Linked DNA regions of Homo sapiens. The protein of the gene in region 2 interacts with the protein of the main gene of each other region in a pairwise test. Each region holds a gene or a part of one and is shown on either strand. Other genes may lie near its edges.

Region 1 (4,032 bases), on a different chromosome or scaffold from region 2:
ATGTCCTGATCTTGGCTCACTGCAACCTCTGCCTCCCGGGTTCAAGTAATTCTCCTGTTTCATTCTCTAATCTCAGTAGCTGGGATTACAGGCACTTGCCACTACGCCCTGCTTTCGTATTTTTAGCAGAGACAAGGCTTTTGCCATGTTGGCCAGGCTGGTCTCGAACACTTGACCTCAAGTGATCTGGCCACCTCGGCCTCCCAAAGTGTTGGGATTACAGGCATGAGCCACCACGCCCGGCCTCAATTGTATTTCTATATACTAATAATGAGCAATTGGAAAAAAAATCTACAATAGCCACCCCCCCGCCAAGTGAAATATAGTTTGAGACCCATTCATGGATCTCAAATCCAAAAATGTGAAATGCTCAAAATCTAAAACTTTTTGAGAGCTGAAATGACTATCAAAGGAAATACTCATTTAAGCATTCTGGATTTTAGAGTTGGGATGCTCAAGTAATATTTGCTTCAGGTAAAGCAAATATTAACCTGAAAATAATCCAAAATATTTCTGGTCCCAAGCATTTCTTTTTTTCTTTTCTTTTTCTTTTTTTTTTTTTTTCTTTTTGAGATGGAGTCTCACTCTTGTTGCCCAGGCTGGAGTGCAATGGTGCAAGCTCGGCTCACTGCAACCTCCGCCTCCTGGGTTCAAGCAATTCTCCTGCCTCAGCCTCCCAAGTAACTGGGATTACAGGCACCCAGCTGTTAAAAGAAAAAGCATTTGGCTTCTACTGGAATCTGGAGCCACAGTTTGGTGTCAAACAGAGCAGCTGTGCTTTTGTTTCAAATGCTGTTTGCTGAAAACCTCTGGATCAGAAGAGCTGGTCTTCAGCCAGGTCCTTGGCACCAAGAGGATGTGAACAATCCTGAATTCCAGGGCCTACTGATGGAGTCCACTAGTTAGTCCCTTTGACACGGCCCCCTTATGGATCCCAGTAGTCAGCCGGGGTGCAGGTTTTCATAGTGATTCTAAACAAGGCTGCAGTCACTGTTTAGAAGTGATTGGGGGAAGCTGGAACTGTGCTCCTTGTTTCAGGACCTCTAGATTGCACCTAGATTAAACAAGACGGAAGCTCTCAAAAGGCTCTAAGTCTAGGCCTCCTGTGAGGTAGGGTCTGAAAGGACTTAAACCATTTTTTTTTTTTTTTTTTTTTACACACAGGGTAACTTTTTGGAAGAGTACTTTGTAACAATAAAGTGCTGTGCACAGAAAGGAGAAATGCCATTATGGGGATGTGTGTGCCGACCTGGGACCAGCAGGGTGAAAGAGTCTATCATTCATGATGAGAGCTGCCATTTGCGCTAAGCACACACCATGTGCCAGGCACTATGCCAAGAAATTGTTGAATCTTCACAATAACTCTGTGAGAAAAGGGCTGTCATTGGACAGATGAGGACACTGATGCTCCCAGGGGTCCACATCACATGAAGAGGAGGTGACAGGGCTGGGCCTTGGTCCGAAGCTCCAGCCTTCCAAGCCAAGGCCTGTGAGAGGAACCGCTGAGACCTGATGTTAGGCCTGTTTTTCTCATGTGCCCTGGAGAAGGGGACTAACACCATCTTTTGCCAAAGTTTGGTGAGGGATGGCCAAGAGCTCTTTGAAACTTTGCCATGTACAATAGCACTCACAATTTTTTTTAAATTTTTTATACAGTGGTATCGGGGTACAGTGGCTCATCAACACTTTGGGAGGCTGAGGCGTGAGGATTGCTTGAGGCCAGGAGTTTGAGACCAGTCTGGGCGACATAGTAAAATCTCATCTCTATAAAAAAAGAAAAAAAATGAGGCGGGCATGGTGGCAAACATCTGTAGTCCCAGCCACGCAGGAGGCTAAGGTAAGAGGATCACTTGAGCCTGAGAGGTTGTGGCTACAGTGAGCCATGATCACACTACTGCACTCTAGGATGGGTGACAGAGCAGGACAGTTTCAAAAAAAGACAAAAAAAAATTTACACAGTGGAATGCTTTCTTTAAAAACTATCTTATGCATAAGTACAATCTAGAAAACCAGAACTGGGCCACTTATAGTGAAGGTGGAAGCAGAGGTGGCCTGGGACCCCCCAGGATTCCTGGAGCACTGCCTGAAGGCCATTTATCTAGTAGATTGGCACTCACTGTAAGAAGCGCAAGAGGTACCATGATGCTTAAGGCTCTGGCTCTGGGTGTGAAAGAATGAGGTGGAATTGTAGCAGATTCATTCCTGGGTCAATCTGTTTTTGGGGAGGGCTGCAGGATTCCAGGCCTGCCATGTGCAATGGGTGCTGCCCTCTTTCTTCTGGGCACCATCTGCCTCAACCTATCCCCTGGCCAGTGTCACTCACAGGGCAGAAAATTTATCTTCACCATCTCACAATTAGTTTAATCTTAAAAAAAATGGATTATAAAGTTAAAAGCTACAGCAACTCTTTTTTGTGCTCATAAAAGGCATCATCTGTTTTTTTCTGTATCAACAAAAGTAGAATGTTCAAGTTTGGATCTTGGTGTAAGATCAACAATAGATCTGTACCTCTGACTCCAATGCAGGGGCTCGTGGGATGGCTCACAGTGGAATCATCAAACGGACTTCCTTCTCATAGATGTCAGGGATCATTCCCACTGGGGAACTGACCATGTGCACAGTGTTCTTGCCAAACAATTGGAACTCATAGTGGATGAGCTGCTCCCAAAAGCCGCTGTTGGGTCGGATGATGGGCCGGCATGACTTGGTCCACGTGTGGGCGTCCAGCAGGGACATGGCGTGGTACTTCATGAGGTAGGCGAGGCACAGGGCAGCTGAGCGGCTCACACCAGCAGCACAGTGCAGCAAAGTACGGCCCTGCTTCATCTCCACGCTGTGGATATGGTCAGCAATAGGGTCAAAGAAGTCACAGAGACGTGAGTTAGGGGAGTCAGCCACAGGTACCTGCATGTACTGGATATCCTCATACAAGGTGTTCACTACCTCCACTGAGACATTGATGACCATGGTGATCTGGTTGCTAGACAGCATGAGCTTGTTGTTGGCGGCCACACCATTGCTGATATACAGGCTTTTGGTTATCTGCGAGAGGCCGCTGACTGAGGGCTGCCGGAACTGAACTGGGAAGGCACACGAGGGTGCTGTCATCAAGGCGGTGGGTCAGTGGTCAGCAGTCAGCGAAGCACGAAGGCTGCGTCTTTCTGCTAGGCTGTGTCCATGGAAAACTGCAGAGAGGGAGAGGATGTTTAGAGGGCAGGTGCCCAGAGGGCCAATTCCAGGGGATCCCTGGGAAATGGATGGATAGGCTTATAGCATTCCCCAAGGCAGTCCTCTGACCATCACAGCAGAACTACCCAGCAAACTCATTTAAAGTACAGATACCCAGGTCCCTCTCCAAACCCACAGTCAGACTCTCGGGGTGAAGAGCATGAATCTGCATTTTCAGCATGCTTCTCAGGTGGTCTAATGTGCACTGCCCTATAGGACAAATGGCAAGTCCCCAAGTCTGGCACTTGAGGCCTCCCTTGAGGGGTCCCACAGCTCTAGTTGGGCAGATGACTTGTGTCCCTCAGCTGTGCCTTGGCCTGATTCTCCATTTAAGCTCACAGAGCCCTTTTCTTGCTGCTCTTCCAAATTCTCTCCTTCCTTCCAGCCCCTCTGAGTGGGAACCATTTGTACAGTCTTCCTCCTCAGTCTTCTGACTTTATGCCCAAATCATAAGGTCCTGAGCCAGTGGCATGGAACCAGAGCCCACTGTGCTGGCAGTCACTGAGGAGGCTGGTATAAGAGTAGGGAGGGTTCCCATTTTCCCCCTCTAAGAACCATCTCTTTAAAGAGACAGGATATGCCCATGCGAAGCTGATGTCAAATACAAAGTCCTAAATTGTTAGACATGCTCCTGCACCTTGCCTCTGAAGAAGGCCTGGGAAAGGGAGTGGCTGAAAGCTTCCTGGAAGCCAGCATAATGGGCACCACAGCAACCCCAGGGACAAGCACAGAGACAGCAGGGCCTTAGGAAGACCTGCCACACCTGCATCATGCTGCCTGCAGCAGAGCTGTGAAACACACCCC
Region 2 (3,601 bases):
TAACAAATCCAGTTTCTCCACTGGCTTTCGTTATAAAATCAGCCGTATTCTCCTCTAGGAAAAGCTGAGGTTCTGAGAGGAGCTAAACATCAGGCTGAATATTGCAGACTTCCTAGAGTCACACATTTAATGGAGAAATTTCTTGACAAAATCTAATTCAATTTAAACCCAAAGGAGGTAATATTAAAGCGTACACATCACCCCAAGGAGTGTTCGCATAAAGTGAGTTATTTAAAGCAAATCTTCAAATACTGTGCAGCATCTCAGCTCCCAATTTATACTGTTGCAACAGGAAAGCTCTGTGCCTTGAGATTCTGTATAAAGAAGGATGCCTAGGCCAGGACTTCTGGAACTCTGGGGTACAGAGTCACCTGAGCATCTTGTTAAAATGCAGATTGCAGCAGGGCACGGTGGCTCACGCCTGTAATCCCAGCACTTTGGGAGGCTGAGGTGGGCGGATCATGAAGTCAGGAGTTCGAGACCAGCCTGACCAACATGGTGAAACCCTGTCTCTACTAAAAATACAAAAAAATTAGCCTGGCGTGGTGGTGCGCGCCTGTAATCCCAGCTGCTCAGGAGGCTGAGGCAGGAGAATCGCTTGAACCCAGGAGGTGGAGGTTGCAGTGAGCCAAGATCGTGCCACTGCACTTCAGCCTGGGCGACAGAGTGAGACTCCATCTCAAAAAGAATAAATAAATAAATTGCAGATTGCGATTCTGATTCATGCTCCCAGGAATGCTGATGCCACGTGGCCCTGGGTCTTTCTTCAAGTAGCACAGTTATAGATACTCTAGGCCCCTACCCAGTTCTCTGAGGAAGCAACTTTAGCACCAGTTTTTAAGTTGCAGTCAGCTTCATACGTAGCGGTGCTTACCCACGCACAGAACTTGGAGAAAGCTAGAAGACCCACCACATCAAAACTGAGAAAAACCACCACCAAAACCAGCCAGCCCAGGATCAGGGAAGGAAGGTCTGATCCTTAATTTGGTCACCGTAGAGCAGGCGCAAGGAGGAACAGGCAACCCCAACTCAAAGAAGCTGGGGAGGGTGCAAAAGACTCCCCATGCCTAGGATGCAAGGGGATATTTAACTCCACCCTTGATCATTCTGCCCTGCACCCAAATGGTTCATTCACTTTTTAAATAAACCTATATGAGGACCTGTTATATCGGCTGGGTGCAGTGGCTCACGCCTGTAATCCCAGCACTTTGGGAGGCTGAAGTGGGCAGATCACCTGAGGTCAGGAGTTCGAGACCAGCCTGGCCAACATGGGGAAACCCCGTCTCTATTAAAAATACAAAAATTAGCTGGGTGCAGTGGCACACACCTGTAAACCCAGGTACTCAGGAGGCTGAGGTAGGAGAATCACTTGAACCTGGGAGGTAGAGGTTGCAGTGAACCAAGATCGTGCCAATGCCTCCAGCCTGGGAGACACAGGCAGACTCCATTTCAAAAAAAACAAAAACAAACAAACAACAAACAAAAAAACCACCTACATAAGAACCCATTATAAATAAGTACTGTACTAAACTCTATGGGAGAGCCCCTCAGTAAATTAAAACAAAACCCAATAGGGGCAAAAATATGGATGGTGTCGCAAGAATGACAGTCCAGAAGTTCTACAGTGTCTACCTTCTGGCAGGAGAGATAGGACAGCTTCAGGGAAGAAGAGGCGGTGGGGCTGGGCAACAGAGAGACAGGAGAAGGCAATGTACAACCGGGGACTGGCCCGAAGGAAAGAAAGGTGGGAGAAAACCAGATATGTGTTAGGAGATGGCAAATATTCCAGCTGGACTGGAATGGAGGGTCCCAGTAGGTAAAATGTCTATTGTTGGGAATGACTGTAAAGCTGAAGGAATCTTTGAAGCACACCACAGAGGGAAGACCAAGAAAGGGCTGTGTGTGTGTGTGTGTGTGTGTATTTTTTTTTTTTGAGACGGAGTCTCGTTCCGTCGCCCAGGCTGGAGTGCAGCGGCGCGATCTCGGCTCACTGCAACCTCCACCTCCCGGGTTCAAGTGATTCTCCTGCCTCAGCCTCCTGAGTAGATGGGATTAGAGGTGTGTGCCACCACACCCAGCTAATTTTTGTATTCTTAGTAGAGACGGGGCTTCACCATGTTGTCCAGGCTGGTCTTGAACTCCTGACCTCAGGTGATCCGCCTGCCTTGGCCTCCCAAAGTGCTGGGATTACAGATGTGAGCCACTGCACCCGGCCTACTTCATTATACTTAATCCTCAGCACAACTCTAGGATGTCCCTTTATAGAAGAGGCTGAGAAGCTAAGAGGTTCATCCAGGGCCACAGGGCCTGCCAATGAGTCTGAGTTGCTGCTTTGCCAGATATACTCCTTATCCCTGGGCTCCACATCCCTCAACAGAGGATCAAAAACACTGGGGGAAGATAAAAATTAAAAACAATACAACAATAAAAAAGAATACAAATTAAAGAATACAACAGTTATTTACATAGCATTTCCATTGTAATAGGTATTACAAGTAATTTACAGATTTTTTTGTTTTTTTTGAGACAGAGTCTCGCTCTGACACCCAGGCTGGAGTGCAGTGGTGCAATCTCGGCTCACTGCAAGCTCTGCCTCCCGGGTTCACGCCATTCTCCTGCCTCAGCCTCCCAAGTAGCTGGGACTACAGGCGCCTGCCACCACGCCTGGCTAATTTTTTGTATTTTTAGTAGAGATGGGGTTTCACCATGTTAGCCAGGATGGTCTCGCTCTCCTAACCTCATGATCCGCCCACCTCAGCCTCCCAAAGTGCTGGGATTACAGGCGTGAGCCACTGCATCCTGCCCTTTTTTTTTTTTTTTTTTTTGAACTCTGTCACCCAGACCGAAGTGCAGTGACACAATCATGGCTTACTGTAGCCTCAACCTGCTGGGCTCAGGCAATACTCCCACCTCAGTCTCCTGGGCAGCTGGGACCACAGGCACGTGCCACCATGCCTGGCAATTTTTTTTTTTTTTTTGTACAGGTGGAGGTCTCATTGTGTTGCCAAGGCTGGTCTTGAGCCCCTGGGCTCAAGCGATCCTCCTCCCTCTGCCTCCCAAAGTGGTGGGATAACAGGCGTAAACCTGGCCCTTAGAGATGATTTAAAGTATACAGGAGAAGCTGGGCATAGTGGATCATGCCTGTAATCCTCATACTTTAGAGCACTGAGGCAGGAAGACTGCTTGAGCCCAGGAATTTGAGGCTTCAGTGAGCCAAGATTGTGCCACTGCACTCTAGCCTGGGTGATAGAGGAGACCCTGTCTCATAACAAAACAAAACAAAAGTATACAGGGAAGTTGTGTGTACGTTATATGTAAATACGACACCATTTTATATAAGAGACTTGAGCACCCTTGGATTTTTTTTTTTTTTTGAGACGGAGTCTCGCTCTGTCACCCAAGCTGGAGTGCAGTGGCACGATCTCGGCACGATCTCGCCCAAGCTGGAGTGCAGTGGCACGATCACTGCAAGCTCCACCTCCCGGGTTCAGGCCATTCTCCTGTCTCAGCCTCCCGAGTAGCTGGGACTACGGGCACCCGCCACCACGCCTGGCTAATTTTTTGTATTTTTAGTAGAGACAGGGTTTCACCGTGTTAGCCA
Region 3 (3,601 bases), on a different chromosome or scaffold from region 2:
CTCACCTACCTCAGTGCCTGGCCTCGGCATCCCTGTCCTGCTCGTCTCTGGCCACGCTGGCCACCCTCTGCCAGGAACAGTCTTCCTCCTCTGTCACTTCTTGACAATGTCCACCCAGCTGCTGCTCCTGGCACCATCTCCTGAGACCGGATCTCTGGATGCCCACAAGTCCCCACCTGGACTCATGTCAAAACAGTGGCCAGGGTTGTCCCTCCACCCTCTAGTGGCCCTGAACCATGAGGCCATGCACCTGCCACATGGTGCTTGCAGGTGGGCACCTGCATTGCTGGTGCCATGGCCCCCTGATTCTGCTGACTCTGACATTTCTCCCCAGGGTGAAGCCTGGAGACCCTCTTGCCCTGGCCTAGCTGCAGGCCCCCGGGATGCTTTGGGCATGTCCTCTGGAGCCCCACAGAAGAGCAGCCCAATGGCCAGTGGAGCTGAGGAGACCCCAGGCTTCCTGGACACGCTCCTGCAAGACTTCCCAGCCCTGCTGAACCCAGAGGACCCTCTGCCATGGAAGGCCCCAGGGACGGTGCTCAGCCAGGAGGAGGTGGAGGGCGAGCTGGCTGAGCTGGCCATGGGCTTTCTGGGCAGCAGGTAGGCCTGTGCACCCCCAAAGGGGACGGGGAGTAAGGGCACGGCACCAGGGCCGACAAGGGATGTGGCTGCTGCTCCCCTACACGTCCAGCCCCACACGGGGATCTGCAGCCCCGGATCCCTATGCAGCACCATGTGGAACTCCCGTGGCTGCTATGGCAAAGCACCACACACTGGGCACTCAACACAGCCAAAGCTCATTCTTTCACAGGGCTGGAGGCCAGAGTCCAAGATCAAGGTGGCAGCTGCGCCATGCTCTCTCAAAGGCTGCAGGGAAGAGTCTGCCTTTCTGTTAGTGCCTGGCCTTGACTTCCTGGAGGTCCTTGGCTTGTAGACTCATTCCTCCTAGCTGGCCTTGTTGCACACGGCATCTCCCCATGTGTGTGTCTGTGCCTTCACACCTCCCCACCCTGCCTGCTGTGTGTCTGTGACTCCTCCTCTTGTAAGGACATGGGCATTTTGGACCAGGGGCTGCCCTCCTACAGTGTGATCTCATCTTTCTTTTTGTGGAGAATGGGGTCTCGCTATGCTGCCCAGGCTGGTCTCGAATTTCTGGGCTCCATGGATCCTCATGTTTTTGCCTCCCTAAATGCTGGGATTACAGGCATGAGCCACTCCAGCCAATGTGACCTCATGTGAACATAACTAATTACATTTGCAAAGACTTTAACTCCAAATAAGATCATATTCTGAGCCACAGGGGGCTGGGGCTTCAACATACCTTTTAGGGAACACAATTTATTGCATAGCAGCTGATAAGCAGTACGTCCTGTTTCCGATCCGTGTGATGGACGAGGAGGCAGAGGTGGGTAGATGAAGAGGCTGGCCTGAGGCCTTACAGTCAAGGAGTGGCAGAGCCACATGGCACCCCAGCCACCACGATCTGAGAGATAGCTGGCACTGTCCCCCTTCCACAGGTGAGGAAGCTGAGGCACAGAGAGGTAGCACAACTAGCCGAGCAGATTTCGGGGAAGATAGAGAGTTGGGTGTCCACCGGCAGACAGTGTGTAGCTGTCGCCTAGGCTGAACTCAGAGGTCCTTTCCTTGGAAGACCCTTGCCCTCCCCTTCATTTATTCATTCATTCTGGAAGCATTTGTCCCATGAAAGATGGTGAAGGACAAGGTCTTTTCTCGAACCCTCTCTGCTCAGACAGGGTCTTGGAGTTAGGCTGTCTGTCTGGCACAGGGGACAGCTCATGGAGGTGAGCAGGCTGGTGGGCCGCGTGCTGTTTCTGTGAACCTAGTCCCTTGCTGAGGGGATGTGCGCATGGTCCCCAGTCCCAGCATCACCCAAATCACCTGAAATATCACCTGAAGCCATGACAGGCCCTCAGCCATAGCTCCCTCTGACAGAGCCACCATCCTCGGTGGCTGCCTCAGTATCCCCCAAGTGTGCACTTCCTTTGCCCCTTGCAGCGAATCAACTCTGTTCCTGACACCCACCAAGGGCCTATTTTCCTTGACCCCAGGCCCTAGCAGAGTCAGTGACTTGTGCTCTCCCTGTGCAACATGGGCACAAACATTGCTAAGTGTCAGCCACATGCAAGGGCTATGCCACCCAGCATCCCCCACAGCTGCCTAGAGCTCAGGAGGAAATGTCCGGTGACCACGCTCCATGAGGTCATGGCATGCGCAAAGGGTGTTATTGGCTTGTTTTGAGGAAATATTTTAGATATGTGGCACAAAGTGAATCAGCCCCCAGTGGTGGAGCAGAGTGGGCCCAGCAGGGGTGCCAATGCACGGGAGGTGAGGAAAGGCCTCACGTTCTGCCTTCTTGAGAGGAGCAGGTGGCACTCTGCAGGGAGCAGGGGAGTCCAGACCAGGGAGTTCTGCAGCCACTGGGTCTTCGTGGAGGTGGCATGGGGCCATTGCTGCCTTGAGGCAAAAAGCCAGGCCCGGGACAGAAGGGTTGGTGCACTTTGGCCCAAGCATGAGGTGACCGGGCAAAGCCAAGCGGTGCCAGCCCCAAGCTGGGGATCAGATGGAAAAGCCATCCCGGGGAACAACAGAGCCCAGGGGTTTGCTGGGCCTGCGTGGGGCACAGGTGCTGAAGACGGACAGGCCGCAGCACCGGGGTGACAACATCAGCCTTCAGTTCCTGGGCAGGGGGAGAAGGGCGCAGAGCAGGGTCCCAGGGAAGGATCCAAGGTGGGAGGGCCTGGAGGGCTGAGGAGTGAGTAGGCAGTGCAGGTGACCTGCCCAGGAGGGCCCCGAACCAAAGTGTTGGGGTCAGTGCTGGGGGCGCAGGGGAGGGCAGTGGGTTTTGGTTTTGATGCGAGAGCAGCCAGACTTGTTGAGCGGCTGCTGTGTGAGCCACCTAGTGATGGGTGCGAGCAGGAGGGGTGCAGAGCTCCCGAGTCTCCTCAGCCCCCAGGAACCCACCTTACATGGTGAACTAAAATGGAGTATTTGAAGTTGTTATATGTTCCAGCCATCTTATTGGATTTATTTTTTAAGTTATTTTTGTTCTTTTCTAGCATCTTCTTTCACACGCAGGTGTGGATGTGCATAGGTGTAGTCAGCACTTGGGGTCTGAGCCTCACACGTTGTCTACACTAAGCCTGGCTGTCCACACACACGCACTCACATGTGCCCATACACAGTCACGAGTTCCACCTCCGAGCTCTGCTTCCCGTGTCCCAGCCTGAGGAGGGGCTCTTGGGCATGAAGGGCTTTGAGCATCTTGGTCCCTGAGCTCTTTCACAGACCGTAAAAGGCATCCTTCTGGAGGCCATCCAGGAGTCAGAACATCCAGTCCACAGGGGGCTATTTACGCCTTGTCTCCGCTCTTGTTTGGAGCCTCCTGTCACATATTTGAGTCCCTGAGCAGTGCATACCGTACACTAATGATTTGAGTGTGGTTTTTGTCTCTGCCACTAGACTATAAGCCTCTTGTAACAGCCCCTGCCCCAAGGTCGGTGAGACGTGTTTCTCAGGCACCTGGGCCTTGCATACACCTTGGCTTGTCCCTGGAGCATCTTCTTGCCTTGTGTAGGAGCCT
Region 4 (3,601 bases), on a different chromosome or scaffold from region 2:
GTAGCTGTATAAAAAAAAAAGCAGGGGGAGGACAGGGAAGATAAATATTTTAAAATATCAAACATCATCTTACTATATAACACAGATGTTTGAAAATACACAGAACCCACATCTCTGCTTAAGTCCAGGGAATTAAAGCTAATTTTATAATATACCTGAAGTGGGCAGCAAGATATTTCAATGATTCAAGATTAATACATTAATGTCCTCAAAAGGTTAACAGGGATATTTCATACCTACAATTTTAGAGCTTGATGGAACCTTTATGTAAGATGTTTGGCATAGCACCTGGGACACACAGCAAGTGTTTAATAAATGGTAGTTAATATATATTGACTGCAATCTTTATTGTTTAGAGAGAACCACTAAGACATAAAACAGTTACATTACCAAATACTTGGACATCACCGACCTAGTTAACAGCAGTACTGGAACCCAAATCTCTAGACAACTCCTTGCCTCTCCCAGTATACTTTAAGAGTCAGAATTAATTTACATACTTCACAGAATCTAATTAACCTTTTACCATTTAAAAATTTTCCTGAAGTTAAAAATGGCAACTTCAATGACATCTTATTATATTCAATACAGGTTGAGTATCCCTTATCTAAAATGCTGGTCCCAAGGTAGGACCAGAAGTGTTTCAGATTTCAGATTTTGAAATATTTGCATATACATACTCAGATGTCTTGGGGATGGTATCCAAGTTTAAACACAAAATTCATTTATGTTTCACACACACCATATATACTCTGAACGTAATTTCATACAGTCATTTGGTGCATGAAACAAAATTTTGACAGTGACCCATTACATGGGGTCAGGTGTGGAATTCACTTGTGCTGTCATGCTGACACTCAAAAAGTTTCACTTTGGAGCATTTCAGATTTTTCAGATTAGGGATACTCAACCTGTAGTGCTTTTGGCTCCATACTTAAAGCAATTTAACATGACAATTCTAGAAATTACCAGATAATAAGTTTTCATTTGCTAGTGATAAGTTTAAGTGAGTTTATAGATGTTATTTTATTACCTAGAGCATTAAGTTCCATGACAGAAAAGATTTTTATTTGTTCACTGATACATAGTATGTGTAAAATGTATAATACAATTCACTTAAGTATCAAGTATGTATAACTAGTTAAGTTGTTCAATAATTACCTGTTCAATAAATGAACTAACAAGTCACGATGGCATGAGAATCAGATAACCTTGAATTTCTTGACACATTGTTTTAAATCCTATATATTTAATTCCCATTTTCTGCATTTTAAATAGTACAAAACAGTAGCACTAATAATTCATGAGCAAAGTAAAAAAAAATAATTTATATGTGTTATGAACTAAATGTTTGCATCACCTCAAATTCTTATGTTGAAATCCTTACCCCCAAGATGTGATGGTGGAGTCTCTGGAAGATAATCAGTTTTAGATTGAGGTCATGAGGGTAGAAACCTCCATGACAGGATTGTACCCTTGTAAGAAGAGGCAAGAACTCGTTCTCTTGGCCGTGTGAGGATACAGCAAGAAGGGAGGGATCTGCGAGCCAGCAAGAGGGTCCTCACCAGAGCCGGACCATGACTGTGGACTTGCCAGCCTCCAGAACTCAAATAATCGTCTGTTGTTTAAGCCACCCTGTCTATGGTATTTTGTTTGAGCAGCCTGGGCTAAGACAATATAATTTGCAAGTTTTAAGTGTTAATTTCTGCAGCAAGTTTTATGTCAGCATAGATTAGAATTCAATTATCTTTGTATTTCTTGAGTATAACTTGAGTTAGGGAAAGTGAGATAAGCATTTGGTAAGATTAATAATTAACCAATGTTCTATATTGAGATTTGTGCCAATTTCCACAACAAATTCAACATTAAGTCCTTCGTTTACACTTGATGCCTATGGAGTTTTCCTATCTACTTTATGAATGTGAGAAAGCACAAGACGATGCACATAATTATGTATAAATATGCTTAAACAAGTTTTGAAGGCCCAATAGACTACTACTAAATAAAAATAAACTATCAAAATAGAGCCCTAACGTAACAGCGAATAGATTTTGTACTTTTCAGAGGCAGATCTGCAATTACTTTTGCACCAACCTAATATGAAGCAAATTATGACCTTACCTCACATTTAAAAACAGTAGAAAAACTTTACAAAAACAAACCGTTTACTAATTACAAAGGCCCTAAATTTGTCCCTTTTATTTAAACTGTATTTGAATTTAATAAAAAGATATACTTAAGTAAATGTGGCCAGCATAGCCAGACTCCATCTCTACAAAAACTTTGAGAATTAAGCCAGGCATGGTGGTGTGTGCCCGTAGTCCTGGCTACTTGGGAGACTAAGGTGGGAAGACAGCTTGAGCCCAGGAGTTTGAGGTTACAGTGAGCTATGAGAGCGCGCCACTGTACTCCAGCCTGGGTAACAGAGCAAGACCCCACTCCTCTCCCACAAAATAATAACAGTAAATGAGTGTTTAAAAAGGAGTTTATCCATTTAGGTTTATCTCCATTATTATTTTTTGTTGTTGTTTTTAGATAATGGTATGAAAAGAAATATGGGCTATATTATGGTTACCTAGGGTGGGAAATAAACTGCCACAGAGGCTTTTCCTGTCTAATAAGACCATGGTGACATTTCAAGAAAAGAAGTTTTGAAGAACTAGACCTTTTTTTGTGCGTGTTTTTGTTTCATTTTGAGACAAAGTCTCACTCCGTCAACCAGGCTGGAGTACAGTGGTGCCATGTTGGCTCACTGCAACTTCTACCTCCCAGATTCAAGCAATTCTCGCGCCTCAGCCTCGCGAGTAGCTGGGATTACAGGTGTGTACCACCATAACCAGCTAATTTTTGTATTTTTAGTAGAGACGGGGTTTTGCCATGTTGGCCAGGCTGGTCTCGAACTCCTGGCCTCATGTAATCCGCCTGCCTCAGCCTCCCATTGAGGAGATAGACCTTTAAACAAATACTTTAATTTAATGTGATAAATACTGTATGTATATTTATAAAGTACAGTGGGAATTTCAAAAATGTAAATTATCTAAAACCATCTGGAAGACTAGTACTTGGTGAATAGCAAATTATATGGACAATAACCTTGTTTACATCTGTCTTTTACAAAATAAATTACGGCTATGTCTATAGTTACCTGCCCTATCCTTTCCCTAGTACTTATTTTTACTAACTCCCTATCTTTCCAACTAAGCAAAAATCATCAAGATGACCAGGTTTACTCTTAGCCATGTCTCAACTGTCAAAAAAATCTTCCAGTTTCAAAATCAATGACCTTTTAAAACCGGTTAAATTCCTAAGAACATCAAATTAAATTATGGATATATCAAACACAATTTAAGTATACTGACTTCTGAATAGGCAAAGTATTGGGGAAAGACATCTATGATATGTTCCACGTTGTAACTCAAAGAGAATTAGTAGCATTGAATCTTTTAGAAGTGGCAAGAACATTGCTATATTTATTAAAATGAGATCTACCTATTTTAACTGCAACTGAGTAAGTCCATTAAAGTTTGACTATGTAGAATATCTATACGGATTGAATATCCCTTATTTAAAATGCCAGGGACCAGAAATATTTCAGAGTTTG
Region 5 (4,039 bases), on a different chromosome or scaffold from region 2:
TGAACTAAATAAAGTGGTTACTGCTTTAAGCCCCTAATGCAGCAAAAGCTAATTAATAAAGTGGTTAAACTACTCGAGTCTCCCTAGTCTTCAGTTTTCACAATTACAAAATGGGATTTTACATATGTTCCTTACATGGTTATTAGTAAGATTAAGGAGGATAATGCTTGCAAGTTGCTTAGCAATGTAACTGACTCACAATTAGCATTCAAAGAGTGCTTATTTTCATGTTTTCCTTGGGGTGTCTGTTAAGTCAAAACCAGAGTTATTTACCCAAGAAAATATAAACTTCTACCTTTGAATTTATTGTAAATAATGTTGGAGTTTGTTATGGAATTCAACATCAATTTATATAAAACTAGAATGTCAAGTCTCCAGAAGAGGAAACAGGCACTCGGCAAGATCAGCTTAAATGGACCAAGATTAAGGCCGAAAGAAAATGTATTAAGCAACTGATATGTGCCCAAACATTACTGCATGCCTTTATTTACAATATTTTGTTTATTTATTGAAATACTTCTAAAATATAAATATTATCCTTCCATCACAATTGAGGAAATATCATTTCCTCAATGAAGGAAATATAATCCTCAATTATCCCTCATTTTTTAAAAAAGTTTCTAAAATACAAATATTATTATCACTCAAACTACTTGAGAAATAAACTTCAAAGTGCCCAAGATCCTATAGCTAATAATTAATACAGCAAGAATAAGAGGCAGGCATTTCTCCTTTAGTTCCCAGGTTCTTTCCTTAACACCTGGTCCATGTGTCTGGGATGGTCTCAGGAAGCCATTGCAAAATTAAGCCAAAAGATGATAGTTAATGTCCACTATTCATATAAAGTGAGACTCGCAAAACCCACCTTCCATGCTTGAGTGTTGCCCAGCAGTTCCTTTTATTGTGTTCTGGTAACTATGAAGTGCCACATAAGGACACCGTGTGTCTTTAAAAACACCCTTTGCATTGGAAGATTTCAGCCTCTGAAAGCTTCACGTATTGCACTCCAGCCTAAGAAGAGGAAGTCCTGCCAGCCCTCAGGTCAGACCTCTCAGGTCTGTGGCTGCATTTCACAGGAAACCAAGTCTAAAACGGACCTATCAGGAGGTTTTCTGCTGAAGGGCACTGCTTAGCATCGAGAAGAATTCAACCCACCGCCTTACTAATTTCCAGTGCCCCAAGGTCTCTGCACTGCCGCCCCTCCTCACAGGAGACGGACACCTCAGCCTAGATCCCTTGGTGCTCTCCACGCTGTTCAGGTAAACTCATTAGGCCAGTTCTTCTGAGTGAGGATCTCATGGTCATCTCCTTGTCATAAATGATCATCAGGAAAGACCTGAGCAGCAAGTAAAAATGTGTTTCTAAAGTGGAAGTCTGGGCCTTATATATAGCATCAAAGGAGCAAGAAGAAAGCCCTTAACTCAATTGTTAAAGATCCTTTCATTCTTTTGGGAGAAAGAATCAGGATACCTACCCACAGAAAATTAAAAGACTAAATGTTTTCAATCTTCTTTTCCTGGAGCTTGGACTCCCCGACTGTTTGCAACTGAAATCTAAAGACCAGGCCCCATGGCTGGCTTTCCTGGCTGACCTTCATTAAGTAAGCCCTCTAGAAAGAAAGCCTCCATTCAAAGTAGGTCATTCAAAGTATAAGTTAACTCCTGGAGCCCTGTGGAAATATATTTTTAACATTTTCTAAAGTAATACGATTTTCTTTCTGCTTTGGTGTAGAGGAGACTTAGACTTTGGAATCACGCAGACATCCTTCCACTCACAAGAGTAAGGAGCTCAAAAGTGAGGTTAAAGTTGGGGTTAAATTCTTACTCTTGAAAAGTGCCGGGAGTCATCTCTACCAGGCTTTTATTGGATAAAGCAAACAAACTGGAATGAGACAGAAAAGAAAATAACTATCATCAAAATATGGATACTTTGATTTTAAAAGGTGTCGATATGCCTGAACTTTTTATCAATACTGTTTTTATTACTTTACACCAGTGTTACTCATTTGGCTTCTCTGTTATGAGTATTACTTGTCTATTACCTACATGGCTATTTCTCTGGCTGTCTCTGTCTATACTGTGGCGCAGCTCCTCAATAGTGTTGTTCTTTGGATTTCCAGGGGCCTCCCAAACCACCAGGAATAATCATTTCAAATATCAAGAAGACGATGGTAGAGCTGGTTAATTGAAGGCCTACCAGAGAAATGACAGCGCTTCAGAAATCCTCTAAGAAGCTTAAGATACAGTATGCCCTAGAGAAGTAGGAATGGCAACTGGCATTTACTTACCTTCAGCTCCTGCTGACCTAGAGAGCTGGCTATTACTTTCCCTGGTTTACAGGTGAAGAACTTGAGTTCTCTAAGTAATATGTGCAAGGTTGTTCAGTCACTAATGTCAGTAACAGAATTCAGAAGGAAACTGATTTTCCTGGCTGACTGATTGGAATGGTGAACAGTGTTAGTTTGCAGTTTCACAGAGCTCATCCCTAAACTCACTCCTGGGTGGTCTCTGACACCAACCATCTAAATGGTAGTATTTCTTTGTTATTCCCAACAAGCCCTCTCAGATGACTGTATAGGCAAGACCATTTGAAAGCCAGTGCTTATAATCTTCTGTACCATCTGGCCAGCTCTGGCCTGAACACCAGGGGATTCTGTTTCTCGATCACTTTGCCATGAGTCAGGTGCTGTCTTAGAAAGACTGTAGGATTTGACGCCTGATCAAAATGGTGAGGATCCTGACTCTGCCACTTGGACCAGGGATGTTGTTTCATATATGATCCTCATTTCCTCCCCCTTTTTAATAAAGTAAGATCTCATAAGACTTGTATTGACAATTATTTAGCCTCAATAATATAATATTTATATTACGTGAAATATGGTGCATTCTTAACACTTAGCAAGTATTCAGTAAGTGTTGACTTCTTTCTCCATTACTTTCCTTTCCTCACTCCAAATCAGTTCTGATTTTATTCTTAAAACATGACCACAATCAACATAGAATTGATTAATACACATAAGTTTACAAATATTGTATTTTAATAATCTCATTAGAGAATGGTAATATTCCACAGTTGTATAGCCCTATGTAATGTAGGCCTTTGAATACATATTTTCTTCTTGAATGATCTTAACAGCTTAATGAAGTAGGCAGAGCACGTATTAGAGCATTTAAAAGGTGAAACTGGGGCTTAGAAAAGATGAGGAAGGACAACATGGTGAAATGGAAAGAAACAGGGCTTTGAGATTGTCAAAAATGGACATGAATCTAGTGTGTGACTTTACTGTTCGTCTTTAGGTAAGTAGCTTAACCTCTCTGATCTTTAGTTAGCTGTTGTTGGAGTTGTGTAATTTGAAACTGGGAGGAAGAATACATTTTGTGTGTTGCTTCGAGAGTGAGAGCAAATGTGCACACAGTGTCTGACACAGAAGAGATAGCCAGGAACTGGCTAAATTTTCACATGAAGAGTAGCAGACAGAGATCTAGAAGCATCCTTTTCTGAATCCTAGTACATGGAGCAGTTATATCCACTGTCATAAGCTACTGCCAACATCTGCCAAGACTTGAGTTCTGCAGAGTTCTTCTAGGCTGTACCTACCCTCCTAGCATGACAAAGAAACATAAAGTGTTCAAAGCGGCTAAATTACTAACCAGAGAGATAAATACCTGAATTTAAATTCTATTTATGATTTTTAACAGATTAAACCAAACATTCACGATTTTACCAATAAAACTGAGAAGCATCAGGTTAGATATCAGCAATAACGAAAAAATCACACACACACACACACACATACACACACACAAACAGAATTGTGGAATAGAGCTATCATAGGACCAATTTTTGTGTTTATTATTTATTTTTTGTTACTCTTATGGGCAGAATATTTGGGAATCATTATTGTGATTATTCTGCTTAATTTTAATCATGTCTTCCAAAGAGCAATGACTTACAGGTTACCATTTAAGTGTTGCTGATAGACAAGAAACGCTCATCATTTCTCACTTTTTAAGTAGGTGTACTTAATTCTTACTTTACA

Evidence for each region.
Region 1: the proteins of PTK7 (region 2) and DUSP18 interact in a two-hybrid assay, tested with the Homo sapiens proteins (one study listed by BioGRID and IntAct).
Region 3: the proteins of PTK7 (region 2) and PPM1F interact in a two-hybrid assay, tested with the Homo sapiens proteins (one study listed by BioGRID and IntAct).
Region 4: the proteins of PTK7 (region 2) and STYX interact in a two-hybrid assay, tested with the Homo sapiens proteins (one study listed by BioGRID and IntAct).
Region 5: the proteins of PTK7 (region 2) and CLNK interact in a two-hybrid assay, tested with the Homo sapiens proteins (one large-scale study listed by BioGRID and IntAct).

The regions. Positions count from the first base shown.
Region 1 is NC_000022.11:30,660,896-30,664,927, forward strand, and holds the end of DUSP18 (dual specificity protein phosphatase 18), read right to left. Parts: intron 3,186-4,032; 5' UTR 3,109-3,185; coding exon 2,542-3,108; 3' UTR 550-2,541; downstream 1-549. UniProt on the Homo sapiens protein: Can dephosphorylate single and diphosphorylated synthetic MAPK peptides, with preference for the phosphotyrosine and diphosphorylated forms over phosphothreonine. In vitro, dephosphorylates p-nitrophenyl phosphate (pNPP).
Region 2 is NC_000006.12:43,079,274-43,082,874, reverse strand, and holds part of PTK7 (inactive tyrosine-protein kinase 7 isoform a precursor), read right to left. Parts: intron 1-3,601. UniProt on the Homo sapiens protein: Inactive tyrosine kinase involved in Wnt signaling pathway. Component of both the non-canonical (also known as the Wnt/planar cell polarity signaling) and the canonical Wnt signaling pathway.
Region 3 is NC_000022.11:21,942,842-21,946,442, reverse strand, and holds part of PPM1F (protein phosphatase 1F), read left to right. Parts: intron 1-334; 5' UTR 335-394; coding exon 395-600; intron 601-3,008; exon of another isoform or gene 3,009-3,601. UniProt on the Homo sapiens protein: Dephosphorylates and concomitantly deactivates CaM-kinase II activated upon autophosphorylation, and CaM-kinases IV and I activated upon phosphorylation by CaM-kinase kinase. Promotes apoptosis.
Region 4 is NC_000014.9:52,747,086-52,750,686, reverse strand, and holds part of STYX (serine/threonine/tyrosine-interacting protein), read right to left. Parts: intron 5-3,601; coding exon 1-4. UniProt on the Homo sapiens protein: Catalytically inactive phosphatase. Acts as a nuclear anchor for MAPK1/MAPK3 (ERK1/ERK2). Modulates cell-fate decisions and cell migration by spatiotemporal regulation of MAPK1/MAPK3 (ERK1/ERK2).
Region 5 is NC_000004.12:10,681,888-10,685,926, reverse strand, and holds the start of CLNK (cytokine-dependent hematopoietic cell linker), read left to right. Parts: upstream 1-1,158; 5' UTR 1,159-1,259; intron 1,260-4,039. UniProt on the Homo sapiens protein: An adapter protein which plays a role in the regulation of immunoreceptor signaling, including PLC-gamma-mediated B-cell antigen receptor (BCR) signaling and FC-epsilon R1-mediated mast cell degranulation.